5 separate regions of the Homo sapiens genome follow, and all the other regions are linked to region 1. Evidence: fine-mapped expression QTL. A gene starts in region 1. Each other region holds a variant in brackets. All regions are shown on one strand. Distances are from middle to middle. Region 1 holds the start of PRKCB (protein kinase C beta). Region 2 overlaps PRKCB (protein kinase C beta). Region 3 overlaps PRKCB (protein kinase C beta). Region 4 overlaps PRKCB (protein kinase C beta). Region 5 overlaps PRKCB (protein kinase C beta).

What was found. PIP is the estimated chance that this variant, and not a neighbour inherited with it, causes the effect.
Region 2: its variant is fine-mapped to the expression of PRKCB in blood mononuclear cells (TOPMed, PIP above 0.99). The same link has a PIP of 0.9 or more in CD4 T cells, T cells and whole blood.
Region 3: its variant is fine-mapped to the expression of PRKCB in cerebellum (GTEx, PIP above 0.99). The same link has a PIP of 0.9 or more in cerebellar hemisphere.
Region 4: its variant is fine-mapped to the expression of PRKCB in tibial artery (GTEx, PIP above 0.99).
Region 5: its variant is fine-mapped to the expression of PRKCB in spleen (GTEx, PIP above 0.99).

Annotation. Positions count from the first base shown.
Region 1 is chr16:23,832,894-23,839,199 of GRCh38, forward strand. It overlaps PRKCB (protein kinase C beta), which reads left to right and starts at 3,090. Exons shown (of 17, transcript NM_002738.7): 1 at 3,090-3,455; 2 at 4,482-4,513. The coding sequence starts at 3,283. RefSeq lists silencers at 2,586-3,225, 3,256-3,335, 3,666-3,745 and enhancers at 2,699-3,246, 3,247-3,792, 4,056-4,195.
Region 2 is chr16:24,031,735-24,038,040 of GRCh38, forward strand. It overlaps PRKCB (protein kinase C beta), which reads left to right. Exons shown (of 17, transcript NM_002738.7): 4 at 402-513; 5 at 3,685-3,813. Among named protein-coding and RNA genes, the nearest start is that of MIR1273H, 170 kb to the right of the region's middle. The variant G/T (reference allele first, on the strand shown) is at 3,600.
Region 3 is chr16:23,995,966-24,002,271 of GRCh38, forward strand. The region is part of intron 3 of PRKCB (protein kinase C beta); the gene reads left to right. Among named protein-coding and RNA genes, the nearest start is that of PRKCB, 160 kb to the left of the region's middle. RefSeq lists an enhancer at 4,041-4,110. The variant G/T (reference allele first, on the strand shown) is at 2,839.
Region 4 is chr16:23,910,396-23,916,701 of GRCh38, forward strand. The region is part of intron 2 of PRKCB (protein kinase C beta); the gene reads left to right. Among named protein-coding and RNA genes, the nearest start is that of PRKCB, 78 kb to the left of the region's middle. The variant G/A (reference allele first, on the strand shown) is at 3,635.
Region 5 is chr16:23,921,204-23,927,509 of GRCh38, forward strand. The region is part of intron 2 of PRKCB (protein kinase C beta); the gene reads left to right. Among named protein-coding and RNA genes, the nearest start is that of PRKCB, 88 kb to the left of the region's middle. The variant G/A (reference allele first, on the strand shown) is at 2,519.

The DNA.
Region 1 (6,306 bases):
CAGCCACAGGTCTGGAGCAAAGGGACCTTGGACTCCATTCTCAGCCACAGCAACCTGCCCCCTCACTGCCTCTGAAATCTTTCAAGTGACCAGCATTCACTCCTTCATGAGCAGAGTGGGCCTGGGGGGCTCTGGTGGCAAGGAGGACCCATGCCCAATCTACGGGGAGCTGCTGCCCTGCAGCTCCTGTTGGCACTATGCCATGTTGCCCTAATCTCTTGCCTGATCTGCTCAGTTGACCTCTTCACTGCTCTTCCTGCCTCCACCCTTTCTCCTCTAATTTCCACATAGTAGCTAGGGTAAGCTTTTAAAATGAAAACCCCATAAGTTGTATCAGGCCACTCCTCAGCTTCCAACCCTCCAATGGCTTCCATTCACTGGAGTGAAATCCAAACTCCTTATCACATTTGCAAAGCCCTTTGGGGCCCTGCTACCTCCCTGACCTCATCTCATAAGTCCTCTCTCCTCTCTGTTCATCCAACCACTGAGGCCTTCTCGCTATTTCTCCAACATACCAAGCTTGATACTCCCCTAGGCTCTTTGCATTTTCTGTTTTCTCTGTCTGGAAACTCTCGATAGTCCCCTGGCTCACCCTCTCACTTTATTCAGGCCTTACTCAGATGTCCCCATATTATAAAGGATTTCCCTGTGGTCTTTATAATAATGCTTTATTTTTATTTACAAACATTCTATTATACACCACCAGGTATGGATTCGTTAGTTGGTTAGGTTATTACTCCCCCTTCCCCATTAGACTATAAGCTCCACTAGGGCAGGGACCTTTGTCTGGTTTGTTTAACAGTATCTGGAACAGCACACAGTAGGTGCTTAATAAGCAATTTGTTGATTGAAAGAACAAATGTATGAGTGAGGGAGGAATGTAGGCTCCATTTAGCTCTATCTTTTTTCCTAGATAAGTCAGAATCTGGATATTTAAGTAAAATTCTATGACCCGTGAACTTAAAAAACAACAACAACAACAACAACCCACTGGGCTAGCTTAAAAAAAATAGAGCATCTGGAGCCACCAGTTTGAGACCCTGACCTACAGGAATCTGGGTCCAATGGGAACCACATTTCTCATCCTCACTTGGTGCAACGCCTTCAGGAACCAAGTGGCTCTTTTCCATCCACAGCCCTTGCATCCCCAGGCCCCGGCGCCATGAGGTACTGTTTGTTGTTACAGACCAAAGTCATCCAGGGCACTTCATTCAAAAGGCAGGATGTGGGCTGTGAGCTTCCAGCTCATCAGTTCAAAGGAAATCTACTTCAGCAGCAATGTCTCCTGGGATGTTTTCCCAAGCCTCCCTGGGAGGTGGTGGGGCCTCTTCAAGGACTAATAATAGACAGGCACATCCAGTTTCCCAAACATGTCAACCTTAAAAGTGAATGCTATTTTTTCCTCCTTACCTTTGAATTACTATGTAGGAGAGGGACATTCTATTATTGCAGCCCTTGCTCTCGACATGCTACCTAATAATGACTTACCACTCAGCAGCTTCCAGGCAAAATTGTCATAGTGGGACCTGAGCTCGTGCAACTCCAGCCTGCCCCCCTTCATCCACCACTACTCAGGTTCACCCCTTTGTCACCAGGATGCTTTGTAGTCAGGCCAGCCCAATCACCATTCAGCAACGGTATGACTGTGGGTGTATCTTAATCACTCTGAACCTCCCCATCCTTATCCATAATGAAAGTTACCAGATCTACATAGGGTTGTTGCGGGGGCTAAATAAGACAGCACAAGTACCTGATGCCCAGCAATCACTTGATATTTATTATTAAACACCTACTGGGTGTGAGTGGGGGTAAGAAGTGCCGACCTTTAAGTCTTCATTCATTCACTTGTTCATCCATGCCCTCACTCAATCAACCAATATTTACTGGGGTCTTGGGAGGTGTCAGGCACTGAGCTTGGTGCTGGGCGACATGGTGGTGAACAGCCCCCCTGCTCTCACAGAGCCTAGGTCTGGTGAAGGAGCTCACAGCCTAATGAAGCTCTGCGTTCCCAGAGTGGGGGACATGGTGGCAGTGGGTATCTTTAGGCCTTGTGCATGAACAGGGCGCTAAATAACATTGAATTACACATTGTAGACAATTATTACCCTTTCAGTTACCTTCAGATCACATCAAGGAGAGAGTCCTGGTTGGATAGTAATGTCTTTAACACCCCTCTAGCATTTATTAATTTCCTCTCTTAACAAATAAAAGATGACTTCAGTCGAAGATGCTTAGGACAGATGACGGCACCTGGAGATATTTTAATAATGTAGATACCTCTTGCTGTTCAAACTCAGACCAAAAGAGATAGGCTTTTTTTCCCCCAGAGGGTGCACAAATACGACCAGAATTTGTGAAGACGAGTCAGAAATGAATGAAATTTGGAAAAATATTGATCTACTGAAATCCTTCCTCCCCACACTATTAGCCCTATGTTACAGTTGGGGAAACGGAGTCGTTTTGCAGAGGGGATGGACAGAAGGTAGGGAGTTCTCTTCCAAACGTGCAGGAGGCAAGCAAAGCCAAGAATCTTCTCTGTGGTGGAGTTAGAGACATATAAAATAAAGATCGCTCCTCCCCTACCTCTGCAGAACGTGTGTGTGTATGTGTGTGTAAGTGTGTGCGGCCACAAGCCTTTCCGAATGAGTGACAGCGGGAGCCCATCCCTCCAGGAGACGCGTGCAGAATGACCAATGGGATGGATGGGGGTGGATGGGTACCAGTCTCCGCAGAGGCCGGGGTGGAATTCGCTGCGCCCCACCCCTTCCACCCGCTCCCCTTCGCCCCGTAGGTCTTTCCACTCTCGCTCCTCCCCTGGGCACATCTCCTGAACGCAGCCCCGGGGGCCGAGGACGGGGTGGGGTGGGGGGCGAGGCTCGGGTCCGACGACCCCGGGCTGCGGTCCCGGCGCTGCAGAGCTGCGGCTGTGCACGCTTAGCCGCGAGGCCCGCGGTAGCCCGGGCGCCGATATGTAAAGCAGCTGGCAGCGCTGGGCGGGGCCTGGGCGCGATGCAAATGAGGAGGGCGGGGCTGGCCCGGGGCTCCGCCTCCCTCCCCCGCAGCTGGGGCCAGCGGTGCCAAGCGCAGCTGGACGAGCGGCAGCAGCTGGGCGAGTGACAGCCCCGGCTCCGCGCGCCGCGGCCGCCAGAGCCGGCGCAGGGGAAGCGCCCGCGGCCCCGGGTGCAGCAGCGGCCGCCGCCTCCCGCGCCTCCCCGGCCCGCAGCCCGCGGTCCCGCGGCCCCGGGGCCGGCACCTCTCGGGCTCCGGCTCCCCGCGCGCAAGATGGCTGACCCGGCTGCGGGGCCGCCGCCGAGCGAGGGCGAGGAGAGCACCGTGCGCTTCGCCCGCAAAGGCGCCCTCCGGCAGAAGAACGTGCATGAGGTCAAGAACCACAAATTCACCGCCCGCTTCTTCAAGCAGCCCACCTTCTGCAGCCACTGCACCGACTTCATCTGGTGAGCGCGCGCGCGCAGGGCACCTTCCCGGGCCCCCGAGGGCAGCGCCGCGCCAGGGACCCCCTCTCCGCGCCCTCTGCGCCCTCCGCGCCCTCCGCACCCTGGGACCCCGCGTCTCCGGACTCCCGGCTCCGGACCCTGCTGCCCGGGACTCCCGGATGGACAGTCCTGCCGTTGCCCTGTCCCCACCCTGGTCCCAGACGGGCCGCCGCGGGGCGCCTCCTGCCCTCTCCTGCTCTCAGGCGCCTCTAGAGCGCCCAGGGGCGGCGTCGCGGGAGCCTTTGCTCCACCTGACTAGGAGCGCGCGGGGTCTGTGCCTGCCCTGGAGGGCAGCGCCTCGGGTGCTCTCCGACCCGGGGTTCCCTATCTCTCCGCCTGCTTCCGGGCGCGAGGAGCCCTCGCCCCCCACCCCTTGTTTCCGGGGGGGGCGGCGCCCTGGGTGTCCTTCTCTATCTCCCTGCGGGCATGGGACATCCTTTCTCACTCCTCTGTGCCTCCGGGCAGCGCCCTGTGTTATCTCCCATTGCCCCTCCCCGAGGGCCTGGGTTCCCCTTTCCACTCCTCGGTCACATCACTGCGGGCCCCTTTCTTCCCCAGTCCCTCCAGTAGTGGGGCATCCTTTCCTCCTTCCCAGTCCCCCTCCCAGAGGACACCACCGCCGCGGGGTCACTCTCGCCCTCCCTCTGAATGCGTCTTTATCTCTTCTCTTTTCCCGAGGGTGCTCGGGGCATCTATGGGTACATCTGTCGCCTGCCTTCAGCCCCTACCCCGACGGAAACGCTCCCCACTATCCCGCCACCTGGTGGTCGCAGCCTCCTCTCTTCTGCAGGAGTGAAGGCAGATGGGGGTTACAGCCGAGCTCCCACCTACCCCCACAAAGGCGGAAGACTCTTGGGCACCCGCCTGTGGCTGGGAGTTTGCACCTGGGGTACAGAGGCAGGGAGGAAGGCGGGTGACTCTGTGGGTAACTAGCTGGAGGCTGGGCCCCCCGGGCTGCCTGACATACACCTCCTTCTGCTTTTGCAGGGGCTTCGGGAAGCAGGGATTCCAGTGCCAAGGTAGGCTCTGGGGCTTTGGGGATGCTATTTGTGGGAAGAGAGGGTGAAAAATACTTTATAGAAGAAGTTACTGAGTTAGGCAGAGAGTGAAAGAATCACGTTGGTCGGAGTGACCTCCCAGGCTAGGAATTCTTCACCACAACAGGGTCCTTTCAAGGGGTGTGTGTGTGACTGGGGCCGATGGCGCTTGGGAGTCTTACATGCCAAGGAAGTTCACCTACCCTTCCTGCCTTCCCGGCTCTGGAAGAGTCAAAGCGGTCTCCTGAAGCAATCCTGGCATGGTCAGTTCCGCTGGGGGAGAAAGTGTTTTCCCGGGACGTTTCTGGGAGAACCTGTCCTCCTTAGTTCCCCTTTCTCTGCCCATGTCCCTTCCTTATCTCACCCAGGGAGGTTCTGCCTCTCCCTGCCTTGCAGAGGTCTCTGCAGGTGGCTGCCGCTCCTCTGCAGATGGTGCATCCCCTAGAAAGGCGACTGTGTTTGTCGCCTGGGCCTCCTCTCTCTCTGAAAGAAGTATTTCCAGAGGGAGTGTTTCTCAGATCCTGGTTTAAATCACCCTATCTTCTGGGTTGAAACAGAAAGGTCTCCAGGGCACTGGTTACCTGAGTTCTTGCATCTGGCTTGAGATCCTGGACTCTAACCAGGGGTATCAAACCTGCTGGTGGTGAGTTGATCACGTGTAAAGTGTCCCCCTCCCCCGTCTTTGGGGCTCATGTCTAAAAGACAGATTGCAAATTGGCTCTCCAGGACCAAAAGTTACCCGCAGCTCTGTGTAGCCCTTAGGGTGTCTTACTTGTGAATTTGATGTGAACGTTTTAGAACTGGGAGATTTCACATACACATCCTAATTTCCAACTTTAACTTTGCTGAGAAATGGTCTCACTTTCGCTTGAAAACAATCGTTTGGAGCTGAGAGCCGTCGTCGTAGATGGGGAACAGCCTTACCATTTTGTCTCAGTTGATCCCAGTGGGGAACACTTCACCCATTTCTGGCCCCTGTGGGCATTTAAGTTTGCAACCTCTCATCTGGAAAGTTTGTGTGTTATGTTTTCTTTTTAATTTAAATTTTAATTTTTCACTCTTGGGCTTGGTAAGATTGAGTTTGGTAAGAAACGGCACATTTCTGGGGTATTGTATCTTTAGGGGCAAAGTGACCACCACCCTGGTGAGCTGGGTTTAAATCAAAAGAAAGTATTTGAGTGTGGAAGAGTCTGACGTGATTTAGCACTGACTGACAGTTTTGTGGCTGCACCTCCACCCTCCAGGGAAAAGTAAAGTGATCCCTAGTGAGTGTAGGTGGCATCGTCAGTGGTGCAGAATGTTTGCTTGCTGGCAGCATGGCACTGTGCTCCTCTGAGACTCTTGCATACTCTTCTGAGATCGGGGTCCCGGTGGGCTCAGTGAGCCCTGCCAACCTACCCAGCCTGTCTTACCAAGATTTGGATCCTCTGCACCACACCAGAGGACTCCTCAAGTCTCTTTAAGTGGCAACAACTTAGGCCCTGGTGCAAACAAATTTGGATTGTTTTCTAGAACTTTGACCCCTCAAACAAAATGCCAATGGTGTCTTGGCACCGGAATGTGTAATTTCTTCTTTGAGGTTGCCTTTCACTTCCATGAATCAGTTTCAGTCTTTGTCTCTTGCTGAGATCGGGGGCGATTTTTAAACATTTTTACCACGGATCTTCTATGCCACCTGCTCTGCTGTTATTGATGGATGGGAAAGTCACTTTGGAATGTGCAAGGCATGACACATTTGAAATAGGAGATCCTTTAACTCAAAGTCTGGAAGATAA
Region 2 (6,306 bases), 200 kb after region 1:
GAAGCATGCTTGGAGAATAAAGGTGGGGAGAAAGAAAAGTCAGGAGCCCTGTTTAGATGATGTGTCTGTTACTTTGTTTTCCCATCTCTGGAGTCCCTACTACAGGCAGGAGCCTGTAGGTTGAGTTCCCAGGCAGGCCCAGATGGAGGGTTTGCAGGCAGGGTGAGTGAGCATGGGGCTGCAAAGGGAACAATCATCTGTCTTTGTCCTTCATTCCTTCCACAACTATTTATCCAGCACCGTTTCTGGGCACAGGGCTCCAGCGATGGTCCCAACAGGTACAATGACCTCTGGGGACCAAGTTCAGTTCTTGGTGAGTTCTCCAGTGCCTCTCGATGTAGGATGAACCGTTGGCATGCTCCACTGACGCTGGCTCCTTCTGTTGTTTCTCTTGGCTCCAGGACCCCCGCAGCAAACACAAGTTTAAGATCCACACGTACTCCAGCCCCACGTTTTGTGACCACTGTGGGTCACTGCTGTATGGACTCATCCACCAGGGGATGAAATGTGACAGTAAGTACTTTTTCTCTCTGGGGGCATCTGCTGATGGCAGAAGCAATGGGAAGGGCTGCTTCCACTTGGTTTGGGGTCCAGGTCTGCCATACATTCCCCCCTGTCCTCGTTGGGGCTGGTGTACCAGTTATCTGTTGCTGCATAATGATCCTCCCACCCCAAAACACTGTGACTGAAGACAATAAACATTTTTTTAGCTCATGACTCTGCAAGGCAGTTCTTTGAATCTGGGCTGGCCTCAGCTGATGTCACGCATGTTCATAAAGCATGAACTCATGGTTCATGGTGGATTAGCAGATGGAGGTGGGCTGGGAGCTGTCTGGGCCATGGTGGCCTCACCCACATGTCCTGGAGGATGGCTGGCTGTCATCTGGGTGATGGTGATGACCAGGCCACGTGTCTTTCCTCCTCAGTGGGCTAGGCTACCTAGCCTCCGTGCATGCACGGAGGTCACAGGGTCCTGAGTTTCTTAGGAGGGCAAGTCCCATTGGCAGCCACACTTCAAGTCTCTACTTGTGTCTTTTGCTCCTGATCCACTGGTCAAAGCAAGTGGCATGTGAGATGCACAGTCACAGTGTGGGAAGGGGCAGTCCATGGCTGTTGACACCCAGAGGCATGAACAAATCATGGGCATTTCTGCAGCCATGCACCACCACTGTTTTCAGCATTGAGATGTGGGGCTGATGCATTCTTTGCATGGAGAAGACCTGTGGCCCTGCAGCACCCACAGGTTTGTGCTGGAGGAGGAAAGAGCATCATTCTCTGGCCAGGATGTGGTAGGAAAGGCAGGTGGGGTAGGACTCCTCTTTATGAGGCCAAGGCCCGGATGGCCTGTGGGGCAGGGGAGCAGACAGGCTTTGAGAGCTATGGCCACAAAGCTACAGGGACACTGGAGGTGCTGGTGGCTCCCACAGACCTGTTGGTCTGCAGCAGGCTGGGTGTCATGAGGCTAGTGGTACTGCTCTCCCAAGGGTCCTGAGGCCCAGAGGACAGAGGGAGAAAGTCATAGGGCAGAGAGTGACAGAGAGGACTGTGAGGGTGAATAAGGGTGGTAGGGAGCAAGACAGACAGCAAGAAACACACATGCATAGACAGACACAGATGCAGGGGAAAGATGGACACATGCAACCCTAACACAGGGAGGAATGTGGGGCGTGGAAGCTACAGAGAGACTCAGCTAGAGAGAGACTCAGGCAAAAGGAGGGACAGGCAGACACACAGACCAACAGATAAGCCAGGTGCAGTGGTTCACTCCTGTAATCCCAACACTTTGGGAGGCTGAGGCGGGTGGATCACCTAAGGTCAGGAGTTTGAGACCAGCTTGGCCAACGTGGCAAAACCCAATCTCTACTAAAAATACAAAAATTAGCCAGTCAAGGTGGTGGGTACTTGTAATCCCAGCTACTTGGGAGGCTGAGGCAGGAAAATCACTTGAACCCAGGAAGCAGAGGTTGCAGTGAGCTGAGATCACACTACTGCACTCCAGCCTGGGTGACAGAGTGAGACTCTCAAAGAAGAAGAAGAAGAAAAGATAAAATGATTGGCATGGACACAGAGAGAGACGCCATTACACAGGCTCATGCAGAGGTATAGAGATGGAAAGACCAGAGACAGAGACAGAAGCACACATGGAGAGCCACAGAGAGACACGGAGGAGAGAGGCAGAGAGACACAGTTGGAGAAAGGGAGAGACAAAGAGGCCAGAGACAAGTGCAGAGAGTGGAACAGACCGATTCACAGACACGGCCAAGGCAGTGAGCCACGTGCAGAAGTGGGACAGCAGAGACAAGAGACATGCAGCAACGTGGAAACAGAGAGACAGACACAGAAACATGGCAAGAGCCACAGGGGGACAGTGAGGTTGGAGCCTTCTGCCTGCAGGACACCAGCTCCTCTTACCACACATGGGGCCCTAATATAGGGACAATGTCCCTGCCTCAGAGACAGTGGTGGGTGGGAGCTCAGGCTGGTGCTCAGGTCCCAGAGGGCTCTCCCTTCCCTCCCCACAACTCATTTCTAGTTTTTGTAATAGGCCTGCTGCCTCCTGGGACTTGGGTGGTCTGAGAAGGGTCCCTTGCCCCCAGATCCCTTGAAATAGGGGCCCATGGGGTGACTTGGCCTCTCCTTCTGGCTTCTCCAACTGGAACTAGCGTCCCCCTGGAGAATCCTGGGTGCCTGGCACACCTTCCTGGAGTGGGGCATTATTGCTCAAGACCTAGAAGAAATCACCCACCACATTGAAATAGACACAGATACTCTACGGAGGAGTGCGCAGAGGGAGTGGATATCCTATAACATGAGAGATGGCCGAAGGCCAAATTCAGTGTATAGGCACATTTTATCCACCCTGCCCTGGCTCTAAATCTTTTTCCTTGTAATTAATTATGGTGGACACTATGGCCAGCCCAGACCCCCTCTTCATGGTCCCACCCCATCCCCTAGCTGTGGTTCACAGCAGTGCCCCATCCTGCATAATTGCCCAAGATAATGCCTCTTCCAGGGAGACCAGATGATTGTGGTGCCCAGCCCTCTTGTCTCAGTTTGGAACAACTCTGAAGGGTCATCTCAGCTCTGGGCTCCCCCTAACATCAGCTTTGATTGCATCCACGTGGCAAACGAACTTCTCCCCACAAGAGCACTCCCCAAAAACCTTGTGCTCAAAACTCCCCGTCTCAGACTCTTTCCAGGGAGCCCAACCTATTAGCTGTTAATATTTAAAAATCAGAGCTGTCACGTACACATCGAGATTCCTGCATACGTTGAGAAATGGGGAATGTTTTTGCTCTGTTTCCCACTTGGCTTGGCCAAGTCCCTGCCACCCCCTTAGCTTTCCTCACTCATGTGACCAGCCAGCCTGTGAGCATTGAAGTTGGTGACTCTGGCTTCAGAGCCTTAAGGGGTGTGGGGTGTGCTTGCTTCAGACTGCACCCTTGGCTGTGGGTGGGGAACAGACAAGTTCTACCTCCTTTGCCCATCAGGGTTCAGGGGGAAGAGTTGGAAAAGCCCTTCTGATGAGATCCTGGCAGGCAAGTTGGTCTCAGCCAGGCTCGTGTGTCTCAGCTGTCTCAAAGGAGGGAAACAGGAAG[G/T]GCTCAGCGGTCTTGGGTGGGGCAGATGTCTGCAGCCCCCAGCCTGGGCCAGCCTAAGCCACATCCCCTCTCTCTGCCCTCACAGCCTGCATGATGAATGTGCACAAGCGCTGCGTGATGAATGTTCCCAGCCTGTGTGGCACGGACCACACGGAGCGCCGCGGCCGCATCTACATCCAGGCCCACATCGACAGGGACGTCCTCATTGTCCTCGGTAGGTGGCCCTGGGGCTCCACTGGCTCCTGACCTTGCTTGACCTGTGTGATTGAGAAGGGGAGGGTGGCGGAGGGGTGGGGCAGTCCAGTGGAGGGGTGGGGCAGTCCAGGGACGGGGAGGGGGTGTGGCACTGCTTCTGCCCCATGCCCTGCCCATGACAGCCCCTCCCTGCAGCAGGGGGATCTTTAGAAACTGTACACCCTCAAAGCTTCGTCCATCAGCACCCCAGGCTGACTTGGGTTCAGAGAGGAGACGTCTGAGTTCCTTGGACTTCTAACTTCCTCAGGATCCTCCACTTCCCTTCTCTCCTTCTCATTTCCCACTCTTTTTTAGTAATCTTTTGGGATGGGTAGTTGCATTTCCTTTACTCAGATAGCAGAGAAGGGAAGCTTGCTTCTTCCGCAAACTTTTCCAGCAGGAAAAATGGAGTCTTGATGATAAACCCCAGATTTGGAGAATATAATATCTTGGGAAGGAGGAGGGTTGGAGGGTGCAATTCAGGGGCTTTCCACATATTTGAAATATTTCTTTCTTGAACCTGATGGTGGCTATGCTGTAATTTTATTATTCTCTATATTTTCTGCATGTCTAAAATATTTCATGATAATTAGAAAGCAGGATGGTACAGTCTCCTGGGAGATGCAGTGAGAGGAGGAGCTGCTGGTGGTGGTGGTGGTGGTGGTGGTGGGGCTGTCACTCATGTATCCCAGCATTCAAGACATACCTGGCTCTGATATGGGAAGTTCAAGCAAAATTGGAACTCAGCAGCACTGGCTTGAGGAATACTCAGCCATAAGCCCCGGTATAACCAGCACTGAGCTGGCTGGGAGTGGAGCTAAAACTTTGCAGGAATTTCTTCTCAAAGGCTAGTGACAAACTACTGTGGACTTTATATATCTAATGAATATAAATAAGGGTTTATGAGTTGGTAACTCAGGAAATTGATCATGGAAGAGATTAATTTTGCAAAAATTAGTGTTTCTGAGGCCTCAGACTGGTTCAGTAGCTCTGATGCATTGAGCCCTGGGTTGCGGAGGGGCTTTACGTAGATTGTGTAAAAGCTGAAAAATACTTATCCCTGTACAATATAATTCTTTTAAACTTGAGATTTCGTGAAGCCCAGTGAGATTTTAGAAAATGTGCAATCCATTGCATTATGTTTTCCTCCAAGTGGTCGCCTGCCTCCCAGTGTGATGCTTGGGGGCCCCAGGGGAAATCCCGCAGTTTCAGGTTCAAGGGAAGCCAGTTTTCCCCACTGATTGAGGTTCCCGATGCTGGTGAGACAAATATGAGACTCTGCTTCCCTCTGGTGTCATTCTGTGGGAAATACACTCGTTCCAAAGCATGACTGCGGGCAGCCAACATTTATGGGCCGCATGGGATGTGCAGTGCTCTAAACCTTACGTGTTATCTCTTTCCACCTTCACAACATTGTGAAATCTCTATTATTCTTGTTTGAGAGGGAGACTCCATCTGTTGCCCAGGCTGGAGTGTGGTGGCGCCATCTTAGCTCACTGGAACCTCCACCTCCCGGGTTCAAGCGATTCTCCTGCCTCAGCCTCCTGAGTAGCTGGGATTACAGGCGCCCACCACCACGCCTGGCTAATATTTGTATTTTTAGTAGAGACAGGGTTTCACCACGTTGGCCAGGCTGGTCTAGAACTCCTGACCTCAAGTGATCCGCCCATCTCGGCCTCCCAAAGTGCTGGGATTACAGGTGTGAGCCACTGCGCCCAACCTTCTATTATTCTTGTTTTATGAACAAAGAAGCCACGGCTCAGAGAAGTTATATTCCAAGAGCTCACACCATTTGCAATAATAATAAAACAATAGCTAAGATGTGTTTAGTTTTTAAAATGTGTTAATCATTGTGAAAAGCACTTACAGGCAGTATCTGATTTACATTGTTTCAACAACTCAAATGAGTTAAGTTATCATTCTACCCATCAGAAAACACATTTCCTCACCTAGGTCTGTTTGACTCAAAAGTACTATATAGTAGGTTACTTTTTTGTTTAGTTTAGTTTCGTTTCGTTTCTCTATGCCCTCCACCGTATTTATTCCTTTTGTGGTTTGGCTAGGGCACCTCCTATGGGCATTCCTTAGGGAGTCTTTGTTCTGATGTGGTACAGTACAATATTTCTTCAAGTTCAAGGTCAAAGTCTTCCCCCTTAATCATAGATATGCTGTGAACTTTGAGAACCTGGATCACAAGCCCCCGCTTCTCAGGACACACTGATAGGAGGTGTATCCATTTGCTGTGGCTGCCATAACAAAATACCACAAACTGGGTGGCTTAAGACAAGACGTTTAAAAAAAAAAAAAAAGAAACGAAAAGAAAAAGAAAAAAACAATAGGCCAGGCACAGTGGCTCATGCCTATAATCCCAGCGCTTTGGAAGACCGAGGTGGGTGGATCACTTGAACTCAGGAGTCAGCCTGGGCAACATGTCGAAACATCATCTCTACTAAAAATACAAAAAATTAGCCAA
Region 3 (6,306 bases), 160 kb after region 1:
CGGTGGGCAGAACTTTGAGCAGTGCACCTGGTTGTGCACTTTGCTTGGGAGGAGAAGTGGCCATACATGTGACTATATCCTGATTCATGGGCTGTAGCCAATTATTTGACTGGCTGGGCAGGGACTTGGAAGGAATATGATTGAAAAAATTGGTGACAAAAAAGTGTGGGGATGAGGTGTGTGGATAGACATCTCTGAGTGGGCAATAAACATGAAAATATTTGTGTCCTAGGTGAGTGCTTACCAAAGGGTGACCTCAGCAGAGGAGGATTTTAATAATTGACTTGATAGAATGACCCGTTCTTTGGATACCAGGCAGCCTCTTTCCCCAGACACCCTGTCATCACACAATGGGCTCATGAACAAAGTGGCCGTGGTGGCAGGGATGGAGGTTATGCATGGGCTCAGCAGCATAGACTTCCACTCATCAAGGCTGACCTGGCTATGGCCACCGCTGAGTGCTCAATCTGCCAGCAGCAGAGACCAACACTGAGTTCCTGATATGGCACCATGCCTAGGGGTTATCAGCCAGCTACCTGGCGGCAGGTTGATTACATTGGACCCCTTCCATTATGGAAGAGGCAGCATTTTATCCTTATGGAAATAGACATGCTGGATACAGATTTGCCTTCCCTGCCTGCAGTGCTTCTACTGAAACTGCCATTCATGGACTTAGAGCATGCTTTATTCACTGTTATGAAATTCCACACAGCATTGTGTCTGATCAAAGAAATCACTTCAAAGCCAAAGAGGTGGGCAGTGAACTCACACTCATGGAATTCACTGGTCTTACCATGTTCCCCATCATTCTGAAGCAGCTGGCTTGATAGAATGGTGGAATGGCCTTTTGAAGAGTCAGTTATGTTGCCAGCTAGGTAGCAATACCTTGCATGCCTGGGCAAGATTCTCCAGAAGGCTATATATGCTCTGAATCAGCATCTAGTATATGGTGCTTTTTCTCTGATAGCCAGAAATTTATGGATCTGGGAATCAAGGAAGTGGAATGGGAGTGGTACCACTCATTATTACCCCTAGTAATTTTACCACCAGCAAAATTTTGCTTTCTTTTCCCATGACTTTATGCTCTCCCAGCATGGAGGTCTCAGTTCCAGAGGGAGGAATACTTCCAGCAGGAGACAGAACAATGATTCTATTGATAGTTAACACTGCCACCCAGCCACTTTGGGGTTCCCATGCCTCTGAGTTAACAGGCCAAGAAGGAAGTTATGAAGTTGGCTGGAGTGATTGATCTGGACTACTAAGGGGAAATTGGACACTACTCTACAATGGAGAAAAGGAAAAATGTGTCTGGATACAGGAGATCCCTAAAGACATCTCTTAGTATTACCATTACCTGTGATTAAGATCAATGAAAAACTACAACAACTCAATACAGGCAAAACTATGAATGGCCCAGACCCTTTAAGAATGAAGGTTTGGGTCACCCTGCCAGGTAAGGAACCACCACCAGCTGAGGTGCCCACTGAAGGTAAAGGGAATACAGAATAGGTAATAGAAGAAAGTAGTTACAAATACCAGCTATGACCGTGTGACCAGTTACAGAAACAAGGACTGTGATTGGCATGATTATTGGCATTATTTTGTTATGGATATGTTTGTGTGTATATATACATATGGTGAGCAAATATCTTTGTTTTCTTTGCTCTTTTAGTTCTTTATCATGTAACGTAAGATGTATTGACTTTATATCAGTATTTTTATGTCTTAGTATTTAAGTTATAGGATACCAGGACAAGAGGAATCATTACTCAAGGACTTCATCTCCTTTTCTGGGGAGGGGATTATTGCATTTTCAGTTGTACAAAGTCTAATTGTATCACATCAGGTGGAATTATGTCCTTGTTATTCTTTATTTGGAGGTTCTTTATTTAAGAAGGTGTGTATGGATGCCAAGTTGAGAAAGGGTGGACTTGTGATGGTTAATTTTGCACATGCAGTTAACCTTGACTGGGCTAAGGGGGGTACCCAGATAGCTGGTAATACATGATTTCTGGGCATGTCTGTGAGGGTGTTTTCAAGAAATTATCATTTGAATCAGTAGACTGAGTAGAAAAATTGCCTTCATTGACATAGGCAGGCACCATCTAATCTGTTGAGGACTCAGAACAAAAAGGCAGAGGAAGGGTAAATTCACTCTCTCTTTTTGAGCTGGAACATTAATTTTTTCCCGCCTTTGGGTGTTGGTGCTCCAGGTTCTCAGTCCTTCAGACGTGGACCAGGACCTACTCCATTGGCACCTATGGTTCTCAGGTCTTTGGGCTCAGATTTCAAACATTGGACTAAACTATACCCCTGGCTTTCTTGGTTCTCTGGCTTGCAGATGGAAGACTGTAGGACTTCTTGGCTTCCATAATTATGTACACCAATTCACGTTATTGATTTTTTTTTGGAGAACCCTGACTAATACATTGTGCCTACACCGTAGATGAGGGCGTGAGTGCCCCTTCCATGGATTGAGAGTGGGGAAGAGGTAGTTTCTCTGAGGAAAGCTAGAGAAACGGTATTGTGTCCTGGTTAAAATCACGGATTATGGAGCCAGCATTCCTAGCCTCAGATCTGTGTGACCTTGGACAAATAACTTAAATCCATTTATGCCTTAGATTCCTCAGCTAAAAAATGAGTTAAATAATAGTTTCTACTTGATAGCATTGTTATGAGTATCAAATACATAGATATCTGTAAAAGCACTTAGGACAGTGTCTGGTGCATGGCAAGAGCTATATATGTGATGATGATGATGACAATGACAATGAATAACAGTGCACACATGCTGAGCAGCCAGCAAGGACAGGTGTCTTGTCAGACAGACCAGGAAAG[G/T]GTGAAGAATGAGCAGGTTCTCTGTCTGCCACCTGGCAGTCCTTCCTAGAAGTGTGGAGGCTCTGTAAGTGGCATGAGACCCCTCTCTGTATGAATGAAGGAGTGCAGCCATTCATTGCCTTGAGCATGAGGAGAGCAGGAAGTACTCCCTGCAGCCAGCATGCATAGGATTTGGCAGCCTACCTGAAATGATTCTATCTCTGGATACAGTTCCAAAAAGGTCAGTTGGCACCAAGGATGATGAATTGGTCCAGACACCTGAACTGGCTTGACTCAGTTCATTGACCTTTTTCTGCTCATGGTTGGAGGCATGATTAAAGACCTAGCCACACCTGCTTGCCCACCTGGCCAGACTCTCCTTTAGCTGCCCCTGATACTCATGCAGGTATGGAGGGGTGCCCTCTCCTTCTGCATGACCTTGGAGGAACTGGTGTGCAGCAAGTTCGTGAAGCAGAAACACACAGGCGGTGACCTTGGACAAGGCTCCATCCACGATAAAGGATGTGCTTGGTTGCATCCTCTACCCTCTGCTGTTCCAAGCCCAGTCTGAGCCAGGCAATATTATGGATATTAGTAGAGCTTTGTGCTGTTGGCATTATCCTACAGCTATGTTCACATCATATCACATTGAGGCAATTTTATGAACCAGGCACTGTCCCGTGAACCTAGCTACTGAGCCAACCATTCAATAACAATGAGAATAGACAACATTTATGGGCACTCGCCATTGGAGGGCCACAAAGTGTGGCAGAGTTCATGGATGATGCTCCTGGTCACCCACAGTCATCCTTCTTGTTCTTGATCTCACCAGGCAGGAAATCCTCAATTCATCTGTCTCTTGTACCTCTTAGAGAGACCAGGTCTCTGGTACTGTCATAAGCATTACTTATGGACATTATAGGTTATTCAGCACTCAGAATACTGACCACATACACAGCCTCCTGTGACATCTCAGAACAAGAAACAGAGGAGTTGTCTCTGAGGGTTGGGACTAGGGTGAGTCAAGTGAGGTACTTTCCCTGGGCACAGTTTAAGGGGTTCTTGTCTGTGTCTGTGGATAGCTGGTTGGTTGGCTGGTGGGTGGATGATCTAAGATGGCCCCTTTCACATGACTGACGACGAGCAGGTTGTCGGCCTGTGTGATTTGGCTCTCGTCCATGTGGCATCATCCTCCATCCAACTGGCTAGCTCTGACTTGTTCATATGGTGGTTTCCAGGCTCCAAGAAGAGCAAGAGAGCATCTCCCAACACTTTTTAAGCCTTTGTATCATGTTTGCTAATGTCCTAAAAAGCTAGTCTCTGGCCAAGTCCAGATTCAAGTGGTAGAAAAATAGATTCCAGTGCCTCATTGGAGAGGAAGTATCTATGGTTAATCTATTGCAGATCCTGTTAACCCAAGAGGCCATAGCAGAACAGAACCCCTGGAGACCATCACACTGGACTTTATAAAAATCTGCATGTTATAGTGTGGCTCAGAGTCATAGATGGCCTCATCAAAAGAATGCACCTAATTTATTCCCTGCCTCAATCGCCAGTGGACTTAACCACCTCTAGCTATAAGTGGTTAATGTGGCAGTTTATTGATCACGTCAATGGTGGTTAAGAGTATGGACTCTGAAATCAGACATACCTGAATTTGAGTCTTGATTCTGCCCAGATACTCATTAGGAAAACTTGGGCATGTCGTTCGACTTCTCTATGCCCTAGTCTCCTTATATGTAAAATAGGATGTTAGTACCAACCACATAGGTTTATAGTGATAATTTTAAAAATATTTAAAATGAGAAAGAGTTCACAAACAAAAGACAAATGAATTTCAAAGCCCTTACATGAAAGCGCTTGGCACAGTGCATAGCAAGCCCTTGGTACATGTAGCTAAGGCCATTTCCATTGCTCCACCTAGGTCCATAATCAAGAATGTACTGACAATTCTCTACATTCTTCCACCCAGAGCATGCCCTTATGAGGTGATTACAGTTTCCATTTCCATTACTTCACACAAACCTCAAATTCTGTGATGCAGTGCTAAGAAAAGAACTCAAACTTTGGAGCCAGAAAATGCTGGTGTCAAATTCCAAATGGTCTCTGCTATGTATTGCTCCAATGACCTTGGGAAAATAACTTTAAGTTCTGTGACCCTCAGTTTATGTCTTTAAAATAGAGAAAATAATACCTAAATAAAGCGGTTTTTTTTTTTTTGGTAACTATTCAATAGGAGACTGCTTGAACCATCCCTAGAATAATGTCTGGCACAAAGAAGGCACTCAATACCTGGTTTTAAAATCATTATTAATGTCTGGAGGAGCCTCTCCTGCTCTATAAGGGATACAGGTTACCCTCTGACCTGCCAAGAAATAATAGCTAATAATAATAGCTAACTTTATTGAACAGGGTCTCTGGGCAGGCAGTACAAAAGGACTCTTTGTCTGGTTTGTCTAAAGATACCTTTTTCAACACTTTATGGCTTTAGAAATAATTTCTTATGATTTATAGTCAAGTTACTGAGTAAAACCCACTGTTAGGTCCTGTGATCTCCTAATTCCATCACTAAATCAGGTCAATTAGAGATGGTAGACACTAATGTTGACCTTATCCTTTTGATCAAGTCTCACTTTGTGATAAGATAGATTAAAAATCATAAACTTGTTAAACTTGTTAAATGTTGAAGATTTGATAAAACAGAAATGAAAGTATTAAATGTATGTATACATTAAAGTATGTAAATAAGTGAGAACATGTTTGAAAATCTGGTTGAAATGGATGATTTTCTCATAAAATTGTCAATTTTGTCTCAAAAAGAAATTGAAAACCAGAATAGGCAAATAACCGAGAAAGAAATGAAAACATTATTCAAGGATCTTTTCTTCTCGTAAAACCCCAGACAAATATGTTTCATGGGTAAAACTTCTTAAATTTTAGAGCAACGAAGAATTTCTGTTCATTTAAAATTGTACCTGATTACAAAGAAGAAATAAACCTTTACAATTTTTTTTAAATGAAAATGAGAGAAATCCAGCTCAAATTAGCAGTAGGAAAAGAGGGCCCATTGACTCCTGAGAAGGACATTGGGAGTAGAGTAAGAGCTTCAGGACCAAGGACCTCAAAGGCTGGAACTGAAGCTCCAGTACTTGCAAGATACTTTTCCATTTCTGCTTTATTGGTTAGTTATTTTGCTCTGTAACAAACCATTCCAAAATTTAGTGGCTTGAAACATCAGTTATTTGTGGTTTCTCATGATTGTGTGGGTTACTTGGGTGATTCTTCTGACCTGGGTTTATTTGGGTAATCCCTGCTGGGCTCTGTCCTGGGTCTTGGTCAGCTAGTGGCTGGGCCGATGCTGGATTACCTAGAACAGCCTTGCTAGCATTGACTGAGGGCTGGCAGGCTGTCGATCTGGGCATTTCATTTTTCCTCCATGCGTCCTCTTTTCCTCCACCAGGCTAGCTTAGTTTCACGGTTCCAAGCACG
Region 4 (6,306 bases), 78 kb after region 1:
AGTCCCTTTTCTGTTCTCTTCAAATCCTTCTGATCGGGCTGAGGAGAAAGCCTCAGGTTGGTGCTGATGTGCTTTTTTCTCCCAGACCCCCATCCTAACAGAAACAGAGCAGGTCTCAGGCTCGGGCCGTTAGGCAATGATGTCAAGCCAGAATGAACTAACATTATTTTGTTCTCGTTGTGTTTTATTTTCATGGGAAACTTAGAGTTATATTCAGAGATATTGATTTTTTTAATCCCATTTAAAAATAATGTTTTAATTGAGATAAAATTCATATAATGTAAAATTCACATTTTAACCATTTAAAATGTACAATTCAGTGGTTTTAAACATATTTATAATGTTGTAAGCCATCACCACTATTTAATTCCAGAACATTCTCATCACCCCCGAAAGAAACCCTGAACCCCATTAGCAGTCGCTCTCCATTTTTTTTCTCTCTTCCCTGCGGCCCCTGGTAACCAACAAACTAATTCCGTTTCTGTAGATTTGCCTATCCTAGACATTTTGTATAAATAGAATCATACAATGAATGATCCTTTGTGACTGGCTTCTTAGAATAATGTTTTCAAGGCTCATCCAAGGCATGTATCAGTACCTCATTCCTCTTAATGGTTAGATCACTTTCCATTGGGTGGATGGACCATATTTTGTCTATTTATTCATCAATTAGTGAGCATTTGAGTTGTTTCCACTTTTTGGCTGTTATAAATAGCCATAAACGTATATATGCTTTTTTTTTTTTTTTTTTTTTTTTTGAGACAAGGTCACCCAGGCTGGAGCGCAGTGGCACAATCACAGCTCATTGCAGCCTTGAACTCCCAGGCTCAAGTGATCATCTTCCACCTCAGCTTCCCAGATAGCTGGGACTACAGGCATGTGCCACTATGCCCAACTGATTTGTTTATTTTTTGTAGACACAGGGTCTCACTTTATTGCCCAGGCTGTTCTTCAACTCCTGAGCTCAAGTGATCCACCCACCTCGGCCTCCCAAAGTGCTGGGATTACAGGCATGCGCTACCATGCCTGGTCCAATTTTTTGTATAAGCATGTTTTCAATTCTCTTGGGTGTCTTCCTAGGAGTGGAATTGCTGGGCCCTATAAGAGCTCTGTGTTTAACTTTTGCAGGCCATTTCCTGAGTGACTTTAAGTTGAAAAGTAAGTCAGTTTAAAGAAAACTATTAATCATATTGCAGATGGTGTGTGGACATGACAAACGTCATAAACGTGGTTTGCAGTGATGGAAGAGTAGAAATCCTGCTTGGACATGACCTCCTCCATCAACTGTTTCCCACTCACCTTTCCAGCCTGTGGTGCCTCTGTTCCCAGGAGCCTCAGTGCAGCCACGCTGGCCTCTGAACTGTCTTACATGAGATGTCCTTCTTCAAAGATACTGCCGTTTGTCTTGTCCTGGGATATGCGCGACCCACATTTTTTTTTTTTTTTTTTTTTTTTGAGATGGAGTCTCACTGTTTGCCCGGGCTGGAGTGCAGTGGCAGGATCTCGGCTCACTGCAACCTCCGCCTTCTGGGTTCAGGTGATTCTCCTGCCTCAGCCTCCCGAGTAGCTGGGATTTCAGGTGCGCACCACCATGCCCAGCTAAGTTTTGTATTTTTAGTAGAGACGGAGTTTTGCCATGTTAGCCACGCTAGTCTCGAACTCCTGACCTCAGGTGATCCACCCACCTCCGCCTCCCAAAGCGCTGGGATTACAGACATGAGCCACTGTACCTAACTGCGCCACCCCTTTATACCCTCCAGGGAGCTGGACTTTTCAGAGATCATCTTTCACTTAGAATCTACCGTTTAACCCTTAATTGCATTTCCCCTCATATTATTATACTCACTAATGATTTTGTTGGAGAATCTTTTGCCTCTGCTATAAGCCACTTGAGGGTAGCATCTATATTCAAGTAGTCCATTGTTCCTCTCATAGTGCAGCCTCACCTGATCAATGGTGAACAGCTGCTGATGAACAGAACCTTCCCTGGAGGCCCCTGTTCTACTGAATCTTGGTCAGCCCCGTGTCCTGATGCTTGCCCTGCTTGCTGTTACTTTTTGCCTGTGGTTTTACTGTTTAGTTAACTTCTTCTTTTCCTTTCTTTCTTTCTTCTTTTTTTTTTTTTTTTTTTTTTTGAGACAGAGTCTCTCTCTGTTGCCCAGGCTGGAGTGCAGTGGCGTGATCTAGGCTCACTGCAGTCTCCGCCTCCTGGGTTCCAGCGATTCTCCTGCCTCAGCCTCCAGAGTAGCTGGGATTGCAGACGTGTGCCACCTCACCCGGCTAATTTTTGTATTTTTAGTATAGATGGGGTCTCACCCTGTTGGGCAGGCTGGTCTCGAACTCCTGACCTCAGGTGATCCACCCTCTTTGGCCTCCCAAAGGGCTGGGATTACAGGTGTGAGCCACCGTGCCTGGCCTTTATTTATTTATTTATTTATTTATTTTTTGATATGGAGTCATGCTCTGTTGCCTAGGCTGGAGTGCAGTGGTGCAATCAAAGCTCACTGCAGCCTCGAACTCCTGGGCTCAAGTTGTCCTCCTGCCTCAGCCTCCCAAGTAGCTGGGACTACAGATATGTGCCACCACGCCCAGCTAATTGTTGTATTTTTTATAGAGACTGGTCTTGAACTCCTGGGCTTAAGCGATCTGCCCACCTTGACCTCTCCAAATGCTGGGATTGCAGGCAAATCAGATTGTTTCACAGACTTCAGAATGGAGGCTGAGGTTCAAGGAGGTGGACACCAGGCAGCCCTGGGAGGCCATCTTCCATCCAGTATGTAGAGTAAGGAACAGGAAAGCAGGTGTACCGAGAGGCAAGAACCATGAATATGGACAAGGAGAAGCCGAGAGAACACAAGGGGAGACCCAACTGTCTTCCAGTTCCCAGTTCTCTTCCTTTCCTTCAGCCAGACCGACCTTCCTCCTATTGGGCCCAAATCATGTCAAAAAAAAAAAATCTGACTGGCCAGGCTTAGTCAAGGAGGGGATCATAGAGTCCCAGTGCCATGGGTGAGGGAGGCAGTCAGTGTAGACATCATATCACTGGGGAGATAAGCCTTCAATGGTGCCCACTATTGGGTGAAAAGGCAGACCTGGAGCTCTGAACTTCAGCTTCCCCTTCTTCCCAAGGTTGTAGAAGTGGGAAAGCCAAGCTAGTCATTTCTGAGTGCGGGAGGAGAATAATGTGACAAAAATGGTTAACATCAGACTAGCTAGCCTTGAAAGCTTGAGTCTGAACGGTGATATCTTAGGAGAGGGGAAAAAATAAGCATGAAGCTGTGGCTCTGCTCCATTTCTGGGGAAGGAAGCTCTTCTGACTTTTCTGGCTCAGTGCAGGAAGGGTTGAAGAATCTCTTAAAATCTCCTGAGTCCTCTTTGTCCTTCATCTCAGAATTCCTGTGCAGGTGATGTTTGGCTGTATGCTCCACGAAAGGAATAGGGAACTTGGCTCCCTCCCTCCAGGGACTGTTGCTGCTCCTCTGAGTTTCCTTAGCTTAAGCTGTGCCCCCTGTGTGCCATTTGCCTTGGGACAGAGATGGCCCCCATTTTCCAATCCTGTTGTAGGGGTGGGAATGCTCCCCAGTATGTGAAAATATCCCCAAGCTGTGTTTTTTTTTTCTTTTCTTTTGGGGCA[G/A]GCTCTTGTGTTGCCCAGGCTGGAGTGCAGTAGCACAATCATAGCTCACTGCAGCCTCAAATTCCCAGGCTCAAGCAATCTTGCTTCAGCCTCCCGAGTTCCTAAGTAGCTGAGACTACAGGCATGTGCCTCCCTGCCCAGCTAATTTTCATTTTATTTTATTATTTTTGGGATGAGGTCTTGTTATGTTGCCCGGGCTCATGTCAAACTCCTGGCCTCAAGTGATCCTTCTGCCTCAGCTTCCTGAACAGCTGAAATATCCCTAGGCTTTTAAGCCTCAGTTACTTAATCAACACAGTGGGGCCAGTACAGCCCATCATTGGCATTTGTGGATTTGGCAGTGGTGGTTCCTTTTCTCATTAGCTACCCAGAAGATCCTTAGCACAGCATCATAAGTCACTGTCTTGAAACTCCACCCTGAATTGGATGCTTGGTGAGCATCTGGGAGAGGCAGAATGGTGTTGGAACCAAGATTGTGGGCTCTGGAGTGAGATTTCTCTGTAAGTCTGGACACCACCCCTTGGTTGGGTGATCTTGGGCAAATTAATTAATGTCTCTATGCCTCATTTTCCTTGCCCATAAGTGCGGATGACATAGCACCCACCTCACAAGGCTGTTGGGAGGTTTAAATGAGTTAAGACCTGCACAGCCCTTAGAACAGGGAGCTTTCAATATGTGTTGGCCACAGCTCTTGTGCCCAATCGATTTCACTCATTTGGGCAATGCCTGGGTTCTAGATGAAGGGGGAGGAGGCTGCCTGTAGTGTCTTCTTCATGGGCCAGTCCAGCTCTGCAGTGGACTGTACTGGTGATGTCCACCGTGCCTCAGCTTTTAAGCATATATTCTCCTTGAAAACTATTTAAGCAGAACACACTGGGGTCAAGCCAGTCCAAGCCAGATGTTTGGGGTCCTGGGTGCTTCTGTTTTCTCCATGTCTGTTTACCTTTAACAAGATGGATGGGGGCTGTGAAGCCCCTCTGGGCAGCCTTTTCTGGCTGTGACATGCACCAGAAACCCACTTTTGGCCTGTTTGCACTGTGTTAGAAAACAGCAGGTGCAGTTGGCAGCCTCTCCCCTACCCCTTCTCCCGTTAGCCCCTGATCTCTGGGGACTCCTTAGACTAATGCAGTTTTAATGAATACACATTACTGTTTACATGACTGAAATGAGAGGCTGGCTGCTTATTTTATGCTGAGGTTTACAGCCCTGCCTTTTAAAACCCTCTCTCCCTTGCTCTGCTTCTGGCCATGGCGATATTTTCTGGCGGCCCCTATGCTGTCCCTCCAAATAAGGAATTCACCATGAAGTCCTGCAGCAGTGTCAGAGCCATTGCCTTGCCCCGGAAGGAGTGAACTGTGTAGAACAAAAGCAGAGGCTGGGAGCTGTAGTTCACGCCTGTAACCCCAGCACTTCGGGAGGCAGAGGCAGAAGGATTGCTTGAGCCCAAGAGGTCTAGACCAGCCCTGACAACACAGTGGGACCCCAGTCTCTATAAAAAATACAAAATACAAAAATACAAAAATTGATGACCTGCACCTGTAGTCCCAGCTACTAGTGGACACTGAAGTAGGATGATTGCATGAGCCCAGGAGGTGGAGGCTGCAGTGAGCTTTGATTGCACCACTGCATTCCAGCCTGGGCAAGAGTGAGACTCTCTATCAAAAAAAAAAAAAAAAAAAAAAAGCAGAAAGATGGATTCTTTATTTTTTTAATTTAAAAATACTTTTTACAATTCTTAAATGCTTGCTTATGATAGAACAATTAGAAAATGAAGGTATACAAAGAGAAGAAAATAAAAATCACCTCTAATTCCACTACTCAGAAAAAACTCGATCGTTAACATTCCTGTTTATGTTTTAGCATATTTTAATCAATCTACATTTATATGTATTTTAAATTAAAATTAGAAACCAAACTTAATACATGTTATTCAGAAATCTGCTTTTTACCCTACCTCACAATTAATATATGATGAATGTCTTTCCGAGTTAAGAAATATAGATCTGCAGTATCTTTTCTTTAATTTTAATTTTAATTTTTTAGAGACAGGATCTTGCTCAGTTGCCCAGGCTGGAGTGCAGTGGGGTGATCACAGCTCACTGCAGCCTCAATCTCCTGGGCTCAAGCGATTCTCCCACCTCAGCCTGCCGAGTAGCTGGGACTACAGGTGCATGCCACCACATGTGGCTAATTTTTTTTTTTTTTTTTTTTTTGAGACGAGGTCTTACTATGTAGCCCAGGCTGGTCTTGAACTCCTGGCCACAAACAAGCAGTTCTCCCACCTCAGCCTTCCAAAGTGCTGGGATTACAGGCTTGAGCACCATGCTCGATATTGCAGTATCTTTTTTTATGCATCATTGTATCCTATTCTATAATTGTTTCTATGGTCTCATTTGTAGAAAGGTTAACATTAAATTTCGAATAGTTATATGTACTCACTGGTTCAAAATTAAAAAGGCACAAGAGCTTTAATACTTTTATTGAAAGATTTCTCTCCTATCCCTAGCCCTTAGGCCACTCTGTTCACCTCCTTTTTGGCACCCAATATTCAACTAATAATACCAATTTATTGTGTATACTTCTGGAAATAGTTCATAATGTACATGCACATCATATACATTTATTTTTCTCTTCCTCAAACACGTACATTCAAATGTTAGCTTACCTTGCTT
Region 5 (6,306 bases), 88 kb after region 1:
TGAAGAATGTGTGCCCAAGTAGTAGAGGGCTTAAGAAAACCACTCTTGGGCTCTGAGTCTCTCTAGGTCTCAGTTTCCTCATCTTTCAAATGGCAATATTAATAAGACCCACCTCATAGGGATTGTGTGGGGTTTAAATGAGAAAAGACAGGTAAGGTGCTGGTACCTTATAAGTGATTAAGTTGCCATTAAGGTATTGGGGACTTAGTGCTTGTCCTTGAAGAGCTTTCGGTCTCGTGAGGAGACAGCCTGATCGTTATAAACTATTATAGAAAATGGGAAGAAATAAGGGTTGAGGTGTGATAAAGATGTGCTAGGCCAGGCAAGATGGCTCACGTCTGTAATCCCAGCACTTTGGGATTACAGGTGGGCAGATCACTTGAGGCCAGGAGTTCAAGATCAGCCTGACCAACATGGCAAAACCCTGTTTCTACTAAAAATACAAAAGTTAGCTGGGTGTGGCGGCACCCATCTGTCATCCCAGCTACTTGGGAGGCTGAGGCAGGAGAATTGCTTGAATCTGAGAGGCAGAGGTTGCAGTGAGCCAAAATTGCACAACTGTACTCCAGCAAGACTCTGTCAAAAAAAGAAAAAATAAATAAAAAAAGATATGCTATACCCTCATATCACAATAATGCCAGGAAATAGATCATTAATTCTGAACCCTAATTCTTGGGTGGGCATCAAGGCAGGCCTCACAAGAAGAAGGCATTTGAGTTGAATCTTATAGGCTCAGCTGGGTTCCAACAGCAAAGACTTAGGGAAAGGGCAGAGCAGGCAGGGGAACAGTAAGAGCAAAGGCTTGAAGGCATGGAAGTTCATGGGTAATTACTGACTGAGATGTTTGGTGTTATGGTGCATAGAACACTATCGGATGATAATGAAAACATTGAATTCCAGCATGTTTAGAAGGACATTGGCTGATAAAAATGACGTCTTAATAGTTATCTGTGGACAAATTTGTAAATGTAAAAGAGTTGTAGACTCAAATCCTACAGAAATTAGGCAGGAGACCTAAATGAGTGAAGTGGGTGGGTATAAAACAGAGGTGGTGGCAGGAACCCATGTTGAATTGAATAGTGGGTGTTTTGTTTAAAGGGGCACCAGTAGTAATTTTTCCTCTGTTGGAATATGATCCTAGGGCTGCCAGCTCTTCTACTTTTTCAAGAGAAGCCAGAAATCTGGATTTCATGCAAAATTTCTTGTTTTTCTTTTTATTAAAGACATGGTATGGACCAAAAAAAGATGTCTCTAGGCTAGATCTCTGCAACCTCTCATCTATACTCTATTTGCATTTTTAAAGACTATATGCAAATGTTATTTAGCAGAGCTACCTAGTTTTTTTGTGTGATGATAGCATGTGAAAGAGCTATGATACATCTTGGAAATGTCAACTTTGAAATATACAGTGACTGTGTTGGTCACTACAGAATGATCTCTGCAGAAACTTCAGTTACATTTTCTCTAAATGACACCTTTGCTTTGACAACACATTTTCAAAAAGAAAAATAGCAAACTACCCTTCCTCCAGGGCCTTAGCCACAGTAGCTCCTGCCAGCATAACACAATGCTGCACCTTACTGAGGGATCAGGAAATGTGGTTTGATTTATAATTATGGCTTCATGGGTAGAATGGTGGCCAATGTCCACATGAGCCACACTCAGTGGCTAAGATCCAGAGGGCATTTAATTTAGGTAGCCAGTGTTACAGACATAGTTTAGATTTTTGCAGCCTTGACCAATCTTAATAGATCTGTCTGTTCTTTAGAGTTACCTTTTTTTCCTGCCTCCTAGCTACCTACACCTTTTAATGCTAAATGTAGTTAGCTAGTGAATGCTGTTATTTGAATCTTAAAATTTCAGGTTGGGACAGAACCTTAAAATTCATGTATTTCAACCACCCTTTGTATGAGGCAGGAATCTTGGTTATGACAGGTGACAGAAAATTCAAACTAGCTTAATTCAGAAGGGAATTTATTGCCTTTATAAAACCAAAAAGTCCAAGGGTAGCTGCCTTCAGGTATTGTCTGATCCAGGGGTTTGTTATGTTTCCAGGACATGGTTTCCTTTATTCCATCTCTGCTTATGTATTGGCTCCCTTCTCAGATGGAAGAGACTCCCCTCATCAAGGTGAGATGGCTATGGAAGCTCTACTCACATTTCCTCTAGGTTCAAGTCCATGTAGAGAAGAGCACCTCTTTCTCTTGTTATATCTCACAGGCTCTAAATTAGCTACTAGGGCCAGTGAAAAAGCAATGTGCTGATTGACCACCCTTATCTACTCTTGGAGTTCCGGATGGAATTAACACTACCTGAATTATGTGGACCAAGAGTGGGAAAGGAATAGTTCTCCAGAAGGATATTTGGTATTGTTATTAAAATAAGGTTAATTGAATACTCACTGAACCATCTAATGCTTGAATTCCCTTCATAGCACGCCATTGGTGACTGTCCAATCTTCAGTTACTAACATGCTACCCCCAAAATGGTGTGTTTGTGCAGCTCTAATAATGACAGG[G/A]TTTCTCCTAATACTGAGATGATATTGGCATCTCCATAGTTCCAGACATTATTTCTGGTCCCAACCATAATCAACCTGTTTTGACACGGGTGAACATGTAAGGGAAGGGATTGCTCATTGTGGTCACAGAAGTAACCTACCCAATAGAAGCACACCAACTTGAAGCATGCTTCCATGATCACTGAGGGAGGAAAATGATTGGCAAGTCTCGTATTGGTCCTTGAAGCGCTCCCTATAAACACTTGTCACTGCCAAGCGTGTATCACTGGCCAAAGCAAGTCACATTGTGATATGATTAGACTTTGTGTCCCCACCCAAATCTCATCTTGAATTGTAATCCCCATAATCCCCATGTGTCTAGGGAGAGAACTGGTGGGAGGTGAATGGATCATAGGGGCAGTTTCTCCCATGCTGTTCTCATGATACTGAGTGAGTTCTCACAAGAGCTGATGGTTTTATAAGGGGCTCCTCCCCCTTCACTCCTCACTCTTCTCTCTCCCGTAGCCATGTGAGAAGGTCCAAGCTTGCTTCCCCTTCGCCTTCTGTCATAATTGTAAGTTTCCTGAGGCCTCCCCAACCATGCGGAACTGTGAGTCATTTAAATCTCTTTCCTCTAGAAATTACCCAGTCTCGGGTAGTATCAAGATAGCAGTGTGAGAACCGACTAATACGCATGGCCATGCCTAACTTCAAAGCGGCTGGGCAAGTATCATATTGCTGTGTACTTGGGAGGAGGGGAGAATCAGAATATTTGATCTGGCGACCACCACACAACTGAACTTCTCTATTTCTGTGTTCTTCTTGTTAACCATCTAGTTTCTGTTTCCTCTTGTGACACATATATTAATTAATTTTTCAATACCCAAACACAAGCCTCTAATATTTATCTTTGTTTAGTTACTTCCTAATAAACTAAGATATCTCTACATCCTGATCCTAAAATTCAAAGGCTCCACGTATACCATGGTGACTAGTTAATTCCAATATATTGCATAGTTGAAAATTGCCAAGAGAGTAGATTTTAAGTGTTCTCACTACGAAAAAATGCATATGTTAAATAGCTTGATTTAGCCATTTCACTATGTATACATGTAGGAAAACATCATGTTGTACACTACAGATGTATACAATTTTTACTTGTCAATTATAAACAACAACAACAAAACTGCAAAGTCTCCTTAGACCCACCCAATCACATGTTGTCTGCTCATTTAATGAGTAAATGCTATATAGGTTCATTCTGGACCTGGGTAAAATGATTTACGGACTGGGACCAAGTGGGAGGACCCTATTTCAATTCATTAGGTAAGGTCTTCCAGGTCAATATTTGACCATTGATTGGCACATCTGGGGTATAGTTATTTAACTGCCTTCTAGTTTACCTCAATATGACCCCTCAGTGGAGGGAAAATGGAGCACAATGACTAGAAGAATGTTGAGAGATGAGGAAAGAGAGAATGGGATGGAAAGAACATAAAATAGGAAAGCATTGACATTGTCACTTCTTGGCTATTTCTTCCTGTAAAATTTTGCCTGGAGTGCCCTACAATGGGGTCCCCATCCTCTGCCCTGATAACATCTTAGTGGATCACTCCTCTCTCCCTTTTCATTCTGCAGGACTTGCCCATTGGGGCTCTTTCAGACCTGACTGGTCATTGGGTATCTGTGGCCATGATAATCACTCTCTTCCTGGACGTGACCCTCCTCTCGTTAACCAGGATGCCTGTGTTCTTAAGGTTGGCCGTTTCCAAGGACAGAGAGCTTGCATCCCATTTCTAGGGGACTGGGGATCCAAGGACTCCATTCTTGACATTGTCTTGTCAGCCTTGAAGTGCCGAAACCCAGCATCCCTGTCTGAGGTCATCCTGTCTCTCTTCCAAACATGAGGACTTCTTAAATTTTTTAAAAAAAGTTTTTACTTGTATAAATTGAGAAGGCACAAGTGCAATTTTGTTACATGGATATGTTATTTAGTGGTAGAATCTGTGCTTTTGGTATGTCCATCACCCAGATAGGGTACCCTGTACTCATTAAGTGATTTCTTATCCTTCACTCCCCCACCCAACCCTTCCAAGAAGGATGACTATTACTCAACAGTCATTCAGTAGCCATTGGAGAATGACTATTATTCCATACTCTGTGTCTATGTGTATTATATAGTTCCCATTTATAACTAAGAATATGCATTATTTGACTTTCTCTTTCTGAGTTTTTTTTTTTTAAGATAATGGCTTTGGGTTCCATCCTGTTGCTGCAAAAGACATGATTTCAGACTGGGCATGGTGGCTCATGCCTGTCATATTAGCACACTGGGAGGCTGACGAAGGAAGATCACTTGAGCCCAGGAGTTTGAAACCAGCCTGAGCAACTTGGTGAGACTCCGGCTCTATAAAAATTAAATTAGCCAGGCATCGTGTTGTGTACCTGTGGTCCCAGTTTCTTGAGAGGCTGAGGCAGGAGGATCTCTTGAGCCCAGGAGTTCAAGGCTGCAGTGAGCTATGATCACACAACTGCCCCCCAGCCTGGGTGACAGAGTGAGACCCTGTTTTAGTCAGGACTTCAAGACCAGCCTTGCCAACATGGTGAAGCCCCATCTCTGCAAAAATACAAAAATTAGCTGGGCATGATGGCGGGTGCCTGTAGTCCCAGCTACTCAGGAGGCCGAGGTGGAAGAATCACTTGAACCCGGGAGGTGGAGGTTGCAGTGAGCCGAGATTGCCCCACTGCACTCCAGCCTGGGCGACAGAGTGAGACTGTTTCAAAAAAAATAAATAATAAATAAATAAATAAAAATAAAATCAAAGGTCTTACTCTTTTTTATGGCTGAGTAGTATTCTATTGTGTGTATGTATATATAGATATACATACATATACCACACACATACGTGTATATATGTATATATATGGTGGTATGTGTGTCTATATACACACAATGATATGTATATTAATATATATGTATATATAAATATATATACATTTTCTTTATCCAGTCATCCATTGATTGATGCTTAAGTTGATTCCATATCTTTGCTATTGTACTGTGATAAACGTATGAGTGCAGGCATCTTTTATATAATAATTTCTTCTTTGGATAGCTGCCCAAAATTCAGGTAAAAGATCTCAGTCTACAAGGCAGCTCCCAAGCTTCAAAAAATTGTCCTGCCAGATTTTTAAAAGCAAGTTTTCTCAAAAGCTTCGATGTATACATTGGTCGATTTATTTATCCATTAAAGTATTTATTGAATACTTCTTACTGCGTATGGTGGTGGTGGTGCTGAGGTGTCTCACAGTGAACACAACAGGCGTAGCCTCTGCTATTACCAAAATTATTGTCTGGTAAAGAATGCAGATGGCTAACCAGGCAGGTGCCTGTACGGTGAGATATGTGCTGTGATGGCTGTAAGCGCATGGTGTGAGCGTAGAGTTGGGTGCTTAATTGAAGGCATCAGGAAGGCTTCCAGGACTAAATGATATCAAAGTCCCACCTTAAGGATGACAGGTTTAACTAAGTAAAGGAGGATGTGGAAAGAAGGGGGAGAGTGCTCCAGGCAGAGGAAATAGTATATACAAAAGCACAAGAGGATTGAAGAACCAAAATCACTTTGGCATGGCTGGAATGAAGGGCATGTTTGTGTATTTTCAGGGTAGGGGATGTGTTTAGGGACAAGCTCAGAGAAAAGGAAGTAAGGAACCCTGTCATAAAGGGCTCATCTGTCCTATGAAAGAGTGTGTACATTTTATTCTGAGAGTACAGAGCCTTTTCTTTTTTCTAAGCATTACATGATTAG